3 linked regions of the Homo sapiens genome follow. The protein of the gene in region 2 purifies or fractionates together with the protein of the main gene of each other region. This does not show direct contact. Each region holds a gene or a part of one and is shown on either strand. Other genes may lie near its edges.

What was found.
Region 1: the proteins of PTPDC1 (region 2) and PPP2R1B purify together in Homo sapiens (affinity purification with mass spectrometry; 4 studies listed by BioGRID and IntAct, with this or other methods). This does not show direct contact.
Region 3: the proteins of PTPDC1 (region 2) and PPP2R2D purify together in Homo sapiens (affinity purification with mass spectrometry; 6 studies listed by BioGRID and IntAct, with this or other methods). This does not show direct contact.

Annotation. Positions count from the first base shown.
Region 1 is NC_000011.10:111,759,675-111,763,425, forward strand, and holds part of PPP2R1B (serine/threonine-protein phosphatase 2A 65 kDa regulatory subunit A beta isoform), read right to left. Parts: intron 1,378-3,751; coding exon 1,145-1,377; intron 278-1,144; coding exon 130-277; intron 1-129. UniProt on the Homo sapiens protein: The PR65 subunit of protein phosphatase 2A serves as a scaffolding molecule to coordinate the assembly of the catalytic subunit and a variable regulatory B subunit.
Region 2 is NC_000009.12:94,087,353-94,091,103, reverse strand, and holds part of PTPDC1 (protein tyrosine phosphatase domain-containing protein 1), read right to left. Parts: intron 3,274-3,751; coding exon 3,193-3,273; intron 2,960-3,192; coding exon 2,841-2,959; intron 1-2,840. UniProt on the Homo sapiens protein: May play roles in cilia formation and/or maintenance.
Region 3 is NC_000010.11:131,903,982-131,907,732, reverse strand, and holds part of PPP2R2D (serine/threonine-protein phosphatase 2A 55 kDa regulatory subunit B delta isoform), read right to left. Parts: intron 1-3,751. UniProt on the Homo sapiens protein: Substrate-recognition subunit of protein phosphatase 2A (PP2A) that plays a key role in cell cycle by controlling mitosis entry and exit. Involved in chromosome clustering during late mitosis by mediating dephosphorylation of MKI67.

The sequences.
Region 1 (3,751 bases), on a different chromosome or scaffold from region 2:
CCAGGCCAGAATCAGCACTAATTCTGTAAAAAGAATCCTAACAAGAAAACTAAAACTCCCCAAAGAAATTCTGAAAATTTAGAGGAAAGGAGCATATCTGTGTCCCTTAAATACTAAGAGTTAGTTTACCTGTTCATCTGAAGCTAGACTAGTGAACAGTGGAACAATTTCACTTTTCACACTGTCTAATTCCAAAACTTTTGCAAATTCACCCAATTTGGAAGCAGCAGCACGTCGTACCATTGGTGTGTCATCTGAGCACAAGGAACGGAATTGCCTGCAACATAAAACAATGAAGGTATTTCCCATCAAATAACACTGAATAAACCTGCCCCCCATACACACAGACAGACTTTTAGAGGTTTTATCTTACAATAATCAGTGACTAAGCTTCTACTTATAGAAGTAACAAAAATAAAACATATTCAACTGGATAATAAAAAATGACATCATAGGCCAGGCATGGTGCCTCACACCTGTAATCAAAGCACTTTGGGAGGCCCAGGTAGGAGGACTGCTTGAGGCCAGGAATTGAAAGCAGACTGGGCAACATAGCAAGACCCTATCTATATGCCAAAAATATTTTTGTTGTTGTTTGTCGGGGGCTCAAGTGAACTCCCACCTCAGCCTTCTGAGTAGCTAGAAATACAGGCGGGTCCCACCATGCCCAGCTAATTTTTTTCTTTTTAGTAGAGACAAGGTCTCACTATGTTGCTCAAGCTGGTCTTGAACTCCTGAGTTCAAGCAATCCTCCCACCTCAGCCTCTCAAAGTGCTGGGATTACAAGCATGAGCCACTGCATCCAGCCAGAAATTTTTTTTAAAAATTAGCCAGGCGCAGTAGTGTATGTCGGTAGTCCTAGCTACTTGGAGGCTGAGGCTGGAGGATCACTTAAGCACAAGAGTTCAAGGTTGCAGTGAGCTATGATTGTGCCACCGCACTCCAGCCTAGACAACAGAGCAAGACCTTATCTCTTAAAAAAAAAAAAGAAAGATGTCATAAATCCTACTATCCTAGTATCAGCCACTCATTGGTAACAAGGTACTATGTAAATTGTCAGCTACAAGTCCCCAGTAATCCCAAATAACTCATAGCTTACTACCTGATTTCTGCTTTAACAAGGCAAAAAAATACCATGGCTTACTGTCTGATTTCTGCTTTAACAGCATTTGATGCCCTGGGATAGCAAACGCTGAACAAACCACATGCAGATGTGCGAGAGGTGAACCAATCCCCACTTGCTAAGCGTTTCACCAGAGGTACAAAATAAGCTTCCAGAGCAACAGGAGTATGCTCCTGGGAGATCTGTCTCAGGGACTCCACAGCCTTGTCACGAACAACAGTCTCTTCCACAGTTGCCAGATTTTCCAAAGGAGGCTGAATGGATTAAAAAGGAAAACCAGAGAAGAAAACTTATTGAATCAGGTTAGAAACAGATAATCACCTTTTAAAGTGACTGAAGGGAGGTGGTACACGTAACCAGAATGTTAGCTGCATCATACCAAATGGTTACTTTCAGCTCACACAGTGATAACATATGGTGCGGCCAACCCAAAGACACGACTTCTGTAGAAAAGCCAAGATCTCGTGTCCCAGATGGCAATTCCCAGATGGTGTCTACAAATGACACAGTGTAAAAGACTTGACACAATATTAATATTACTGTGAGTTGAATCACTAGGTTTAAAAGATACATAGCCAAATTCAGACAGGATCATGTATATTTCCTCAAGAGTAAGTACAAAACTATGACCAATGTTAGGCACCACAAATACAGGATAACAGCTTGTCAGGTCACTGAGTCCACAGCCTTTTCAGTATCTTTCCACCATTCCCAGAGGTGCAAGCAACCCTTATCCACCATCTCCATCCCATCCTTTTATCCAACCTATAAAATGCTGAATGCAAAATTGCTTTTTTCAGAACACATTCAGCAACTTTCCATTAGCCATAGGGCAGAAAGGAGTTTCTGACAGAACAATCAAGTGAAAACTACAGAGACTGGCCAGGCACGGTGGCTCACACCTGTAATCCCAGCCGTCGGGAGGCCGAGGTGGGCAGATCACTTGAGGTCAGGAGCTCGAGACCAGCCTGGCCAACATGGTGGAACCCTGTCTCTACAAAAAATACAAAAATTAGCCAGACATGGTGGCACACGCCTGTAAACCCAGCTTACTCAGGAGGCTGAGGCATGAGAATCACTTGAACCCGGGAGGCAGAGGTTGCAGTGAGCCGAGATTGTGCCACTGTACTTGAGCCTGGGTGACAGAGTGAGGCTCTTGTCTCAAAAAAAAAAGGTAAAGTACAGAGATGGTAGGACACCTTGCTTACAGCTTTAGAAATAAAAGAAGCCAAATGGGGTGGATGGTCTGGATTAAGAGCAGTAACTGAATATGGCATGGCCTAGTAAAAAGTGTAAACAGGCTGGCTCTCTGAACCTCTGCCTTACTGAGTTTGCATGTAGTCCAGGTAGATTCTACACATGCCATGAGCTACAGATTTTAAAGCATAAAACCCACATATAGAACTAACCAAGAGTGAAACAGAAGCATAATGAGTTAAAGAAAAGAAGTGTGTCTAATAATATATTTTAAAAATTGTTTGATACACACAGGTAGACAGTATTCAGCTTTCCTAGAAGGTATTTCAGAAACTCATTGAAAAGATACTGTTTCTCACTTGCCAATGCATTTCATGATCTGTCCCCTGCCTACTGTAACCCCCTCTCGTGCAGTACCACTGGATAATAGCTATCATTACTACAGGATGAGGCCATGCTCCTGAGAATTGCTTATGAGTGGTCTCTTGATTTGAACTCTGCCTGGCCCTTGATGACCACTCTGCCTACCCAGCCTCAACACTTCACACTCCAGCAGTTCTTTTTTTTTTTTTTTTTTAAGAGACAGGGTCTTGCTCTGTTGCCCAGGCTGAAGTGCAGTGGCACAATCATGGCTCAGTGCGGCCTCAGACTCCTCGTCCTTCTGCCTCAGCGTCCCGAATAGCTAGGACTCAGACACATGACATCATGCCCAGCTATTTTTTTTTAAGTGTTGGGGTCTCACTATGTTGCCCAGGCTGATCTTGAACTCCTGGCCTCAAGCAATCCTCCTGCTGCTTTGGCCTCCCAAGGCAAGGATTACAGGTGTGAGCCACCACACCCAGCCACACTCCGGCAGTTTTGAACCCAGCCTGTTTCATGCTTCCAAGCCTCTGAAACTCATTTTTTCAATACATTATTATTGGTATATTCTAGCATTGAGGACACAGAAGAAACAAGGCAGACAAGGTTCCTCACTCTAGTGGCATTTACATTCTAATGGAGTAAGACAACAATCAATCAAGAAAATAAGTAGATGGTGATGAGTACTCTATAGAAAAAAGGAGTAGGATGATGTAGTAAGGGATGACTGTGAGGCTATTTTAAGTTGAGTGGTTGGGGAAAACCTCCCTGAGGAGATGCATTGAAGTTGATCCCTGAATGACAAGGAGCCAGCCACAGAAAGCTTGAAAGAGCTTTTCATTAGAGGGAAGACCTAGGGCAAAGGTCCTAAGGGAATAATGAGCTTGGTTAGTTCAAAAAACAGAAAGATGACCAATGTGAATGGAAGAGGTTATCAAGGCCTTTTGCAGTCTGTTCCCTGCCTACTGTCACCTCTTCTCATGCAGTACCACTGGGCATATGATAATCCTACAGAGGCGGGTCATAAAAAGCCTTGTAAGCTAAGGTACAGAATTTGGATTTTCTAAGAGC
Region 2 (3,751 bases):
TCTGGCCTGGGCAATTAGGCAGGAGAAGGAAATAAAGGGTATTCAATTGGGAAAAGAGGAAGTCAAATTGTCCCTGTTTGCAGACGACATGATTGTATATCTAGAAAACCCCATTGTCTCAAGCCCAAAATCTCCTTAAGCTGACAGGCAACTTCAGCAAAGTCTCAGGATACAAAATCAATGTACAAAAATCACAAGCATTCTTATACACCAACAACAGACAAACAGAGAGCCAAATCATGAGTGAACTCCCATTCACAATTGCTTCAAAGAGAATAAAATACCTAGGAATCCAACTTACAAGGGATGTGAAGGACCTCTTCAAGGAGAACTACAAACCACTGCTCAAGGAAATAAAAGAGGACACAAACAAATGGAAGAACATTCCATGCTCATGGGTAGGAAGAATCAATATCGTGAAAATGGCCATACTGCCCAAGGTAATTTACAGATTCAATGCCATCCCCATCAAGCTACCAATGACTTTCTTCACAGAATTGGAAAAAACTACTTTAAAGTTCATATGGAACCAAAAAAGAGCCCGCATCACCAAGTCAATCCTAAGCCAAAAGAACAAAGCTGGAGGCATCACACTACCTGACTTCAAACTATACTACAAGGCTACAGTAACCAAAACAGCATGGTACTGGTACCAAAACAGAGATATAGATCAATGGAACAGACCAGAGCCCTCAGAAATAACGCCACATATCTACAGCTATCTGATCTTTGACAAACCTGACAAAAACAAGCAATGGGGAAAGGATTCCCTATTTAATAAATGGTGGTGGGAAAACTGGCTAGCCATACGTAGAAAGCTGAAACTGGATCCCTTCCTTACACCTTATACAAAAATCAATTCAAGATGGATTAAAGACTTAAACGTTAGACCTAAAACCATAAAAACCCTAGAAGAAAACCTAGGCATTACCATTCAGGACATAGGCATGGGCAAGGACTTCATGTCTAAAACACCAAAAGCAATGGCAACAAAAGACAAAATTGACAAATGGGATCTAATTAAACTAAAGAGCTTCTGCACAGCAAAAGAAACTACCATCAGAATGAACAGGCAACCTACAAAATGGGAGAAAATTTTTGCAACCTACTCATCTGACAAAGGGCTAATATCCAGAATCTACAATGAACTCAAACAAATTTACAAGAAAAAAACAAACAACCCCATCAAAAAGTGGGCAAAGGACATGAACAGACACTTCTCAAAAGAAGACATTTATGCAGCCAAAAAACACATGAAAAAATGCTCATCATCACTGGCCATCAGAGAAATGCAAATCAAAACCACAATGAGATACCATCTCACACCAGTTAGAATGGCAATCATTAAAAAGTCAGGAAACAACAGGTGCTGGAGAGGATGTGGAGAAATAGGAACACTTTTACACTGTTGGTGGGACTGTAAACTAGTTCAACCATTGTGGAAGTCAGTGTGGCAATTCCTCAGGGATCTAGAACTGGAAATACCATTTGACCCAGCCATCCCATTACTGGGTATATACCCAAAGGACTATAAATCATGCTGCTATAAAGACACATGCACACGTATGTTTATTGCGGCACTATTCACAATAGCAAAGACTTGGAACCAACCCAAATGTCCAACAATGATAGACTGGATTAAGAAAATGTGGCACATATACACCATGGAATACTATGCAGCCATAAAAAATGATGAGTTCATGTCCTTTGTAGGGACATGGATGAAATTGGAAATCATCATTCTCAGTAAACTATCGCAAGAACAAAAAGCAAACACCGCATATTCTCACTCATAGGTGGGAATTGAACAATGAGATTACATGGACACAGGAAGGGGAATATCACACTCTGGGGACTGTTGTGGGGTGGGGGGAGGGGGGAGGGATAGCATTGGGAGATATACCTAATGCTAGATGACGAGTTAGTGGGTGCAGTGCACCAGCATGGCACATGTATACATATGTAACTAACCTGCACAATGTGCACATGTACCCTAAAACTTAAAGTATAATAAAAAAAAATTAAAAAAAAATAAAATAAAAATGTAAATATGAAAAAAAAAAGACATTTCCTGCAGAAACTCAGCCAGAAAGAATTATGGCGAAGTATAATTACAAATTAATAAAGTCAATGATTCATGCTATAGTTACTCAGCTTTGGAGAGAAAGCATACATTCTTGTTTAAGCAGGGAAATGTGTCTAAATGACTGATAAATAGCTTAAGACAGTATATATGGATTTTCTATCTAGTGTAAATAAGCTTCTTAAAAACAAGTTCCAAGATTGTTTATCCTTTCCAGCCTGGTTTGAAGGACACATGTTGAGTGTATTTCATCCCAAAGCTCCTGTGATTGAGGCGGCTTTGAAATTGTTAGAAGTAGAATTCCTGGGCATCATTTTGGGAGCAGGGCTGGACAGCAGTAAACCTGGAGCATGTCCAGGTTCCAAACCTGACTACCATTTCTAAGCTGTGTGATCTTAGGCAAACAGGTAATTCTCTAAGCCCCGTGTGGCTTCATATGTAAAACAGAAATAATAATTTTGTTACACAACTGCTTTAAGGGTTAAATGAGATAATAGTGACTGGCACACTGTAAGCATTAACTAAATGTTAATCATTATTACTACAGGGTCTCCTCCCAACATCCCTCTTACAGGAACAAAGAAATCCTTTACTTTCAACAGCAATACCAAAGAGAATGGTAGCTCATTTTTTCTAAACCTTACTATGATGCAGAAGGTATTTATTTCCATCATCTTTTTAATCTAAGAACCCAGCAGAGAAAAGCCTCTGAGTGCTGCCCTTGATAATTCATGAGAGGAGGGTGGGAGGAACTTACTGCCAGCCTCCATGAAAGCCTCAGGAAGGTATGTGAAGCCACTTTCTTGTTCCAGAGGGTTCCCACAGCTAGCATGCTCACCAGGGCGCTGGAGGTTGATTATTGTTTTTATGCCATGGCTTAAAGGAAAAAGGGCAGTCAGTCATATTGGGAGCTAGCATTTAAAAAAAATTAACCATTTTTGGTATTAATCAACATTATTAATTACTCTCAAAAATCTTAATTTCTCATTTGAAATACACTCTTCACTGCCTATTGTTAAAATGAAAGCACTCTTTCACTTGAAACAAAGGCAATGAAAGAAAAAAACACATGAGTTTGCTCACTCGTGTGTGAACAATACAGCATTTACCTGAGGAACTGATCAATGATGTGGTACTTCTCCAGGAGCTCAGAGGATGGGCGGGCCATGGCCAGTATATTATCAGTGACCCTGCAAATAGGTGGAGGGACTGGTGAGATGTGCTGAAACCTAGGAAGTTCCAGTCCAAAGAGATGTTCCAGTCCTGAGAGATGATTTTTTCTATGATTTCAACAACTCTGTTAGAATATTCTTTTTTGTGTATAAATTTTATTTGAACAGATAATACAGTTTCATGGTTCAATAAAATCAAAACAATACAAAAAGGTATGCACTAAAATGTTTGCTCTCAACCGTTTTCATCCACTCCATTCAGTTTGTTCCCCATATGTAATCATTTGTATTAACTTCATGTTTACCATCTTAGTGTTTATTTTTGCAAATATAAGCAAATATGAATATTTATTCTTATTTATCTGCTTTTTCTTGTACAAAAGGTAGTCTAGTAAAGGCACTGTTAGATACTTTGCTTTTTTTCTCTTTAGGTTAATTTTTAAAATTTCAATAGTTTTTGGGGTACAGATTATTTCAGGTTACATAGATGAGTTAT
Region 3 (3,751 bases), on a different chromosome or scaffold from region 2:
TCGCTCTGCTGCCCAGGCTGGAGGTGCAGTGGCGTGATCTCCGCTCACTGCAAGCTCCGCCTCCTGGGTTCATGCCATTCTCCTGCCTCAGCCTCCCCAGTAGCTGGGACTACAGGTGCCCGCGACCACACCCAGCTGATTTTTTGTATTTTTTTTAGTAGAGACGGGGTTTCACCCTGTTAGCCAGGATGGTCTCGATCTCCTGACCTCGTGATCCGCCCGCCTCGGCCTCCCAAAGTGCTGGGATTACAGGCGTGAACCACTGCGCCCGGCGAGTCTGTGAATCTTAAGGCATACAACTGACTTCCTAAAGGCAGAGGCTTCCTATGAAGCTCTCATAAGTCAAACTGCAAAATATTACTAGACTGTTTGCTTGTTTGATGGCCTTCCCCAGAGGATGCTTTCCTGAAGGTTCTCTTCAATGGCACAGATATAAATATTAAGTAAATGAAAATTCTACAATGGAATATAGAAATCAGACCGGAAATAATTCAAATAAGCAGACACCATGTCCCATTAAGACCAAAAAAAAAATATAAATGAATAAATACCAAATGCCCATTATCTGTACACAGAAGAAATCAATAAATATGACTGACAAGTTTTGCATTCACCAACACCGTATTTCATTGATTCTAAGTACATTTCCCCACATCTTAGTATCTCTGAAATTAGATGTAGATTTTATATATACATATAAAAGACATTATAGGAGATTATATATAAAAGACACACCTAATTTCAAAGATTATATATATACATATATAATTATTATTATTTTTTCTTTTTTCTGAGACAAGGTCTCACTCTATTGCCCAGGCTGGAGTGCAGTGGTGCAATCATAGCTCATTGCAGCCTCAACCTCCCTGGCTCAAGCGATGCCCCCACCTCAGCCTCCTGAGTAGCTGGGACTACAGGTGTGTACTACCATACCTGGCAAACGTCCCGAATTTCTTTCTTTTTTTTTTTTTTTTGGTAGAGACAAGATCTCACTATGTTGCCCAGGCTGGTCTCAAATTGCTGGGCTCAAGGGATCCTGCCATCTTGGCCTCCTGAAGTGCTGAGACTACAGGCGTGAGCCACCGAGCCAGACATTATCTTACATTCAATGAAACAGTAACTTTCTGGTGCTGATGCTACAGTTAACTTAATTTTTGTTACCTTTCTGCGACTTAAAATGTTTCTTTCAAAGTACCAATGTAAACTCCCTTGGAAAGGCTATCCTACCAGATTAACCAGATATCTATGTTACTTACATAACTCCCCAGACTCAAGCTTGACTTAAGCAAACAAACCTTTAGTTTTGTTTAGTCTATCTCTTTAGAAACAGGTTAATGTCTAATTCAAAGCAACAGATCATGGATTAAGAAACTGATTAAAGCAAAATCAACAAATAAAACCCCAATACACTTAAAACTACAAATTCTGAGAAGAAAGGAACCAGCTGTTATCAAGCTATAAAGCTATATAAAACCAGGTTCAATATAAGACCCTCCTCCCCCAACCCCTCCCCACGGTTTCTCCATAGGAGCAATTAGTGTAATATATAAAGGAGCAAGACCCATAGCTTCCCTGCAGGTAAGCAGGTTGCAGTCATGTGGAAAGTGACATCACAGGCAAAGGTGCTGCAGCACTTGCTTGACGTGCAGGTGTTTCACTTACTTACTGTCTCTGTGGTATCTACTCTTCAAATAGTTTGAGAATTGGTTGGAAAGTGATGCTATTCTTGAATCCTTGTTACTAATCTTCTATCATTTTGACACAGACTTCCTTTAAAGGCATTCCATTTTCATTTGCCTTCAAAAGCATTTTCACACGCCTCTTGGTAGTAAGATTTTCACCGAGCTTTAGAAGAACAGCTCCATCCCAAGGCTGGACGGCCGCATGCCACAGTGGGGCTTCATCAGTACTGTGCTGGCTGCAAATGGTCGCTGAAGCAGTACAGCGCTCCACGGCTCTGCGGCCAGTCGGCGTGGCTCCAAACCCTGGCCCTGCCATACACTCGCTTTGTGACCCAGGTTAATTGCTCCCACGCCTCGGATTCTGCATCTGAGACTGGGAAGAACAGTATTTCCTTCCTTCTTCGGTGGTGTGAAGATTCACTGACATAGGAAAAGCACTGCGAGCAATCTCTAGCACAGAATGACCACTCAGCAACTGTTACCTATCATGACCTTCGTGCTGGGTCCTCTACAAGGGCTGGGGTGGGAAGGGGGACAGCCAGCCTTCAAGCTTGAGGAGCTCAGTCTACCAGAGAGAGAAGCAAAGGATGAAATACCATGTGACATTGCAAAACACATCACATGCTGAATGAAGTACGTTCCAGGAGAGGGAGCAGGGGCTGGGTGAAGGTGATTCCATAACATGCAGAAAAAATCTGCACAACAGTTAACAATTTCCAGAAAGGAGCCACCGTTTAGAACCGCAACATCGTGGAATTAGAAGCTAACAAACAACTTTTCTACTTGCTTCCTGCTGGAAGCCCCCTGGTTTTACTATTTTAACTCTTGGTCAACTCAGCATATAAACTCACCTAGTCCCACCTTCCAGCAAAGGGAGGAGATGCAAGTCACCACTGACTGCTGCTTATACACCTGCTCATCAGCAGGACACTTAATAACTTCCTTGTGAGCTCAGCTCTACTCCTACCTGCAGGGGGATGGGAAGTCTGATGACCCAGTGGAATCACAACTCTTAGCAAAATGACCTGACCCATAGCTAAACCCAATTCTTTTAAAAAAAAAAGGGGGGTGGGGTGCGCATCAAATTTTACATAGGCCAGCACTTTCACCATAGGTTGATTCTGATTCCCCAGCCCAAAACTATTAGTTTTAAAAACAAAACAGAAATCAAAACAAAAACCAAAGGCTTTTCTATGTCACTCACTTCATGACCTCCAAAGTCAGGAGTGCCTACTCCTAGCCCTGCACCACTTCCTGTGCACTGGGCATCACCCCACTGAAGTCAGGAGAGGACCCAGGCCTTAATCTCTAAGGCTCCTTCTCCTTACCCATTGCAGAGAGGGCAGAAAGACGGCCAGAGTGCAGGGCTGTAGTAAAGCTCTACAGAGCTGAACTTGGCCCAGAACAAAACCTTCAAGAACAAAATGCCTCACAAGCCACAAATCTAAACAAACAAAATCTGCTATACCTTAAGTTCTACAGCCTGAGCAGCAGTGCACGATAAAAACCCCTGTGAACTGCCCATCTCTCTTTTTTTTTTTGAGACAAAGTCTTGCTCTGTCGCCCAGGCTGGAGTGCAGTGGCACGATCTCGGCTCACTGCAAGCTCTGCCTCCCGGGTTCATGCCATTCTCCTGCCTCAGCCTCCCAAGTAGCTGGGACTGCAGGCGCCCGCCATCACACCCGGCTAATTTTTGTATTTTTAGTAGAGACGGGGTTTCACCGTGTTAGCCAGGATGGTCTCGATCTCCTGACCTTGTGATCTGCCTGCCTCGGCCTCCCAAAGTGCTGGGATTACAAGCGTGAGCCACTGCGCCCGGCCATCTCTCTCCTTTTTTTTTTTTTTTTGAGACGGAGTCTCGCTCTGACGCCCAGGCTGGAGTGCAATGGCACCATCTCGCCTCACTGCAACCTCCACCTCCCAGGTTTAAGCAATCCTCCTGTCTCAGTCTCCTGAGGAGCTGGAATTACAGGCCGGCCCTGCCACGCCTGGCTAATTTTTGTATTTTTAGTAGAGATGGGGTTTCGCCATATTGGCCAGGCTAGTCTCAAACTCCTGACCTCAAGTGA